Linked DNA regions of Homo sapiens: region 2 is linked to region 1. Evidence: fine-mapped expression QTL. A gene starts in region 1. The other region holds a variant in brackets. All regions are shown on one strand. Distances are from middle to middle. Region 1 holds the start of MYH7B (myosin heavy chain 7B). Region 2 overlaps GGT7 (gamma-glutamyltransferase 7).

Evidence for each region. PIP is the estimated chance that this variant, and not a neighbour inherited with it, causes the effect. A credible set is the group of variants that fine-mapping cannot tell apart.
Region 2: its variant is the best candidate, but not a certain one, in a credible set for the expression of MYH7B in lymphoblastoid cells (GTEx, PIP 0.89).

Annotation. Positions count from the first base shown.
Region 1 is chr20:34,954,542-34,957,445 of GRCh38, reverse strand. It overlaps MYH7B (myosin heavy chain 7B), which reads right to left and starts at 1,578. Exons shown (of 45, transcript NM_020884.7): 1 at 1,439-1,578. GSS (glutathione synthetase) reads left to right here and starts at 1,640. Exons shown (of 13, transcript NM_000178.4): 1 at 1,640-1,719. RefSeq lists enhancers at 1,313-1,492, 1,733-1,832.
Region 2 is chr20:34,861,995-34,864,898 of GRCh38, reverse strand. It overlaps GGT7 (gamma-glutamyltransferase 7), which reads left to right. Exons shown (of 15, transcript NM_178026.3): 2 at 1,351-1,586; 3 at 1,934-2,085. Among named protein-coding and RNA genes, the nearest start is that of GGT7, 9.4 kb to the left of the region's middle. RefSeq lists an enhancer at 1,315-1,866. The variant G/T (reference allele first, on the strand shown) is at 1,625.

The sequences.
Region 1 (2,904 bases):
TTACGATCACTAGGAGTTCTCACTCCTAAATTTCTTTGATCTGTTCGCTTCGCTCCATCTCCACAGCTGCTGCACTGGCTACAGCCTCATGATCTCACATCTTAACTCTCTCTGCTTTCTCTGGCCCATCTCCCCACTTCCAAACCATTTGTCACGCTGTAACCAGTGCCTAACACACAAAACTAACCATGTCCTTCCCCTGCTTAAAGCCCTTAGCTCCTGTTGCTCAGTGGAACTGGCGTCTGAGGCTACCTCTCCAAGCCTAAGCGCCTAAGTCCTGTTGCAACCCTCAGGCCCTTCCTCATTATCCACACCAAACTCCTCAGTGTCTGTAAAACAAGCCGAGCAACCCTCAGAATTATATGCCTTCGCTGCTCGTTTGTTTTGTTTTTAGGACAGGGTCTCACGCTGTCACCCAGGCAGGAGTGCTGCAGCGTGATCTCAGCTCACAGCAGCCTCCGTCTCCGGGGCTCAAGAATTCTCACGCCGCAGCCTCCCGAGTAGCTGGGATTACAGGCACGGGCCAACACACCCGGCTAATTCTTGTATTTCTAGTAGAGACGGGGTTTCGCCATGTTGCCCAGCCTGGTCTCCAACTCCTGAGCTCAAGTAATCCACCTGCCTCGGCCTCTCAAAGTGCTGGGATTACAGGTCTGAGCCACTGCACCCAGCCAGCCTTTGCTGCTTTTGTTCCTGCAATTTGGAACACTGTCCCCATCCCAGCCTCTCACCTCTACCCCTACCTCCTTCACTACCTATACCTTCCTATCCATCCTTCAAGACCCCAAAAACCATCCCTGATTCCTTCAGAAAGGCAGTTTATTGCCTATCTTATCAGACTGAAAGCAGTGGCTGTGTCTTATTTATGGTTAATTCCCTAGAAGCTGGACTGATACATTCCATTTAACTAAAATTCGTATCAGGTGCTTCGGACTGCAGACAAGCCTATCACAACCCAGAAGGAAGAAACAGGGAAGGCACCTGGGGGCTGCCAAGCAATGAGGTGGGGGGTAGGAATCATGAATCCGCATATTTTTAAAAACTGCCCCAGATCCTGATGTAAACGGTACAAGAGAGTCTGAGAAACACAGGGCTCCCCTCAAACAGTCCTGACTTCAGCATTCCTGGAAAAATGAAAATCCTTTCCTTTTGCCTCTAATGCTTTCCCTGCTGGTATCCCAGGTTAAAAAAAAATAGATAAAATCAGGGGGATTTTTCTGGGACTTGGCTGGGCTGGGAAACAAGCCTGGGTTCTAATACAGGCTCAGCCCCTGACGTACTATGGGCCCCTGCCCCTCCTTGGGGCCTCCATTACCACGGCCACCCCCACCCTTATCAATTGTGTGCCCCTGAGGTAGTGACTGTCCCGCTCTGAGCATTAGTTTCCCCATCTTCCACTAGTCGTCGTCAGCTCTGACGCTCTATGAGCTATGCATACCCGTAGCTCCCCGCCGACCCCGATGGTCCCCTCCCCTCCTTCCCAAGGTCCATCCGCCAGGGTGCAGCCGACGCACTCCTAATGCTAAGGCCGCCCTCTCATCGACCGCCCCTTCCTGGCCTCGACTCAGCGCCAAAGGTATGGGTCTCTGCCCCGCCTGCTCTTTAAGCCTAGCCGGGGCGGTCAGCGCAAGCGCACTGGGTCGCATCGAGGCCCCGCCCCCTGAGCCTGGGTAGCGGCGCGAGGGCCGGGAGAACCGTTCGCGGAGGAAAGGCGAACTAGTAGGTTGGGGCGGCCACGGCGGCCGGCATGGGTCACGTTTCCTCGGGAGGAACGATGTGAGGGAGGGGTCTGGCAAGAGATTGGAATTCCGGAGGCCGGGAGACCTTGTGGCTGAAACCCTTCGTAGGAGCGGGGCAACTAGTGTCTAGTGAGGGGGTTGGGCTGGCGCGCACTGATCCCAGACTTTCCGGATCTTCTGCCTTTAGATCGGGCCGGTGTCGGGGCATGTAGGCCAGTGAGACTGGAGCCAGTTAGAGCTACAACGGGGAGCGATTAGGGCCAAACTTTGTCCAGGGTGGAAGCGAGCGGGCCCGTGAAGTGGGGCCAGCCTGGGCAGCCGACCGTGTCGTTGCCTCGGGGCCTTTCCAGGCACTGGCCTAAGTCCTGGCGATAAAGTGCGACCGATTTCCTTGTGGGCGTTTTGAGGCTTTCGGTGATCTGACCCGTCTGTCATTCATTCTTCATTCATTCATGTGATGAATGAATACAGTACTAAGCGCGGCTAATTACTAGGTAGAGAAGTGATCAAGACAAACACTGTTCCTACGGTACAGGGAAAAGTGATGGGCTGTAGAATGTAGAAGCCCGGGGCGGAGAACAGGGACAGCTTCCGGAACGAAATCGCGAGCCCAGATCAGGAGTGGTGGCGAGAGTTCCAAAGAGAAGACAGCACGTGCCAAGTCCTGGAAGGGGGACAGAGGCCAACATATCCTGGTCACTGAAGACACCTGACTCTGAATCTGTTTCACGCCCAGGGAAGAGATGACAGTGGCCGGGGCTAGGCTACAAACTCTGGAAATGGAGATAAATAAAGGAATTCAAAGTACTATATACTTAGGCAGCAAAATCCATAGGATTTGGGGAGAGTGAGATGTAGGAAACAAGTACTCAAGGCTTGGGTACCTGGGTGGGGTTCATCAGAGAAGAAGCAGATTTGTGGGAGACAACAACAAATTCTATTCTGGTTGTATGGAGACTCGCAGGAAAAAATTGGATATTCTAGTTTGAAGGTAGGAAAGTATTGCTGTGAAGATGTAGATTTGAATGTCATCAGCAAAACATAAATAAAGCCAAGGGAGGGTTGAGGCTGTAGAATGAGAAAAACAAAGGGCCCACTTAGCACCTTCATCTGATTTCTTTTCTTTCTTTCTTTTTTTCTTTTTTTTTTTTTTTGACAGAGCTTT
Region 2 (2,904 bases), 93 kb after region 1:
GTGAGCCAGGATTGTGCCATTGCACTCCAGCCTGGGCAACAAGAGCGAAACTCCATCTCAAAAACAAACAAAAATAGCCTCTCGAGTAGTGACCTCCCATAGTCCTTAGGGTAAAACCCAAGCTTCTCCCCAGGCTAGTAGAGCCCCACATATCTTCCTTTTTTTTTTTTTTTCTTTTGAGACAGAGTCTCACTCTGTCACCCAGGCTGGAGTGCTGTGGCGCGATCTCGGCTCACTGCAACCTCCACCTTGTGGGTTCAAGTGACTGTCATGCCTCAGCCTCCCAAGTAGCTGGAATTAGAGGCACACATCACCATGCCCAGCTAATTTTTGTATTTTTAGTGGAGCCGGGGTTTCACCATGTTGGCCAGGCTGGTCTCAAACTCCTGACCTCAAGTGATCCACCCGCCTCGGCCCCCCAGAGTGCTGGGATTACAAGATTGAGCCACTGCGCTCAGTATGTATCTGGCCTAGCTTCCACCCTTACTACTCTTTCCCCATGCCTGCTACACCAGAGCCGCCCAGGCCTTGGTTATTTTTTTTTCTAATGTGCCAAGCTCATTCCCACTTTAGGGCCTTTGCATCCACTGTTCCCTCTTTCCAGAACATTCCACACACATACTCTTTGCTCTACATTATAGCTGGCTCCTTCTCATCCCTTAGTTTTCAGCTTAAAAGTCACTTCCTGAGAGGCCTTCCCTGATTTCTGCAGCTAAGGAATCCTCCCTCCCCTACCACCATTATTCTGTCATTTCCTCCTTTTTCTTCATAGCACCTGCCACAACTTGTAATTATAGACTCCTTTGCTTATTGGCTTTTTCTTCCAGGGCTCTATGAACCACATGAGGGCAGGAACTATCTGTTCCCGTCCCCTGGCACCTAGCATAGGGCTCTCCATATTTAAGGAATGAGTGAGCTGATAACTGAAGTGAGGTTGGAAGGCAGGGTCCCTCCACTCTGTTTATGTAGCTGCCTCCTTGCATGGAAGGCTGGGCCCCAACTGGGGCAGGATCCGATTTCCACTGAGGGCTGGAACCCCCACCCCACCCCCCAGGAAGTGTTCTCAGCCCTGGGCCCTGGGTGCCAGGAAATTTGGCCTAGGTATCAGGGAGGGGCGGGAATCCAGCCTCCCTGCTGCCCAGCTGGGGAGGTCCCTGTCTCTTCCTAGCCGGGCACCGTTGCCCCGCCTGTCCTGGGGTGCACGCGAAAATGAGGAAAGGTGAGTAGTGCTAGCCAGTGCGGGGATTGTGTGGCAGGGGCGGGGCAGGGAAAGCGCTGAATAGTCCCACCTGGAGGGTGGGCAGGGCCAGATAGGAGATGCCCAGACCGACCCCGGCTGCCTGCCCGCAGACCCGGACTCCTTCCTGAAGTCTGCACGGCTGCAGCGGCTGCCATCGTCGTCGTCGGAGATGGGCAGCCAAGACGGGTCGCCGCTACGCGAGACGCGCAAAGACCCGTTCTCCGCCGCAGCGGCCGAGTGCTCCTGCCGCCAGGATGGGCTCACGGTCATCGTCACGGCCTGTCTCACCTTCGCTACCGGTGTCACCGTGGCGCTGGTCATGCAGATCTACTTCGGGGACCCCCAGGTGAGGGGGACAAATGGGGAGGGGGAGGAAACTGGGGA[G/T]TGGGGAGTGGGGTAATGTTTGAGGAACTGTGGAAACTGGGGAATGGCTGAGTGGTAGAAGGGGAGAGAGGGTGGTGACTTGGGAGAGGAAGGTCCCAAAGAGAGGAGCTCCAGGGCATGAGGGAGACAGAACAAGGAAGAATAAGGACAGATCCATTAGGAGGCACTTGGGGTAATGAGGGCAGAGTCAAGGCAACAAGGGGGCAGGGCTTCGACCTTCATGCCGCGTAGAGTTCTAGGGCTAGTGGAGGTGCCCTAGGGAGGTGGACAGCTCCTCCTGCCCCCACCAAGTCCTCTTTCCCCTCCCAGATCTTCCAGCAGGGTGCCGTGGTGACCGATGCTGCCCGCTGCACTTCACTGGGCATCGAGGTGCTCAGTAAACAGGGATCTTCTGTGGACGCAGCGGTGGCAGCAGCCTTGTGTTTGGGTATCGTGGCTCCACACAGTTCTGGCCTGGGCGGGTAAGGAGCAGTGGAGGTCGGGGTCCCCCAGGCCTACTTCTTGCCTCCAGGTCTGTAGGCCTCATGTGCAGCACTCCTAACTTAGGGAGAGGGGCTTTTGGGCCCCAACTCCTTGCATTTTCTCTTTCTACACCAAATTTCACCCCCTTCTCCCTGGATGGAGTCAGAAGAGCAAAGCTACCTTATGGAAAACCTGAAAGTGTTTTCAGAAGCTTTTTTTTTTTTTTTTTAACTAGAAAAAGAAATTTGTAAACCATAAATTAAGATGCACAGGTGGAGGTATACTGTCATCAATTAAGGCAGAGATATTTCAACTTCTAGGATCATAAATCCCTATGGGTCTGATGAAAAGCCTTGCACCCTCTGTCCTCCAAAAATACACCCTGCACTAAGAACTCTTAGAAGTTACAAGCTGGCCACCCATGGGCAACACCCAGCACACAGACTGGTTTGGTTTAGACACTGAACTGTCTTAAAATTTTGTTTGCTTTTGTTAAAAAGTTGAGAATTTTCATAAAAATCCAGATTTCCAACATCTCTTGAACAATCGGGAAATCCGATAACAACTTGGGCCCGCATTCTCACATGGCTGAAGTTACCTGGCGTGGAATAGAAGCTGCTTCCCATGATGGGCATGCACTGTCCAGTTTGCCGTAGTTTCTACCACTTCCTCTTCTCTGTCCTGCTTGCCTTAGTTTGTCATTTGGCTGTGGGCATTTAAGTTTGCAGCCCCCATCTTAGACGTAAATAAGCTACAGAAAAGGAACAAGCTGACAAAGTTCCTATCTTGGCTCCTGTAAGACCAGCTCTCCAAGCCGT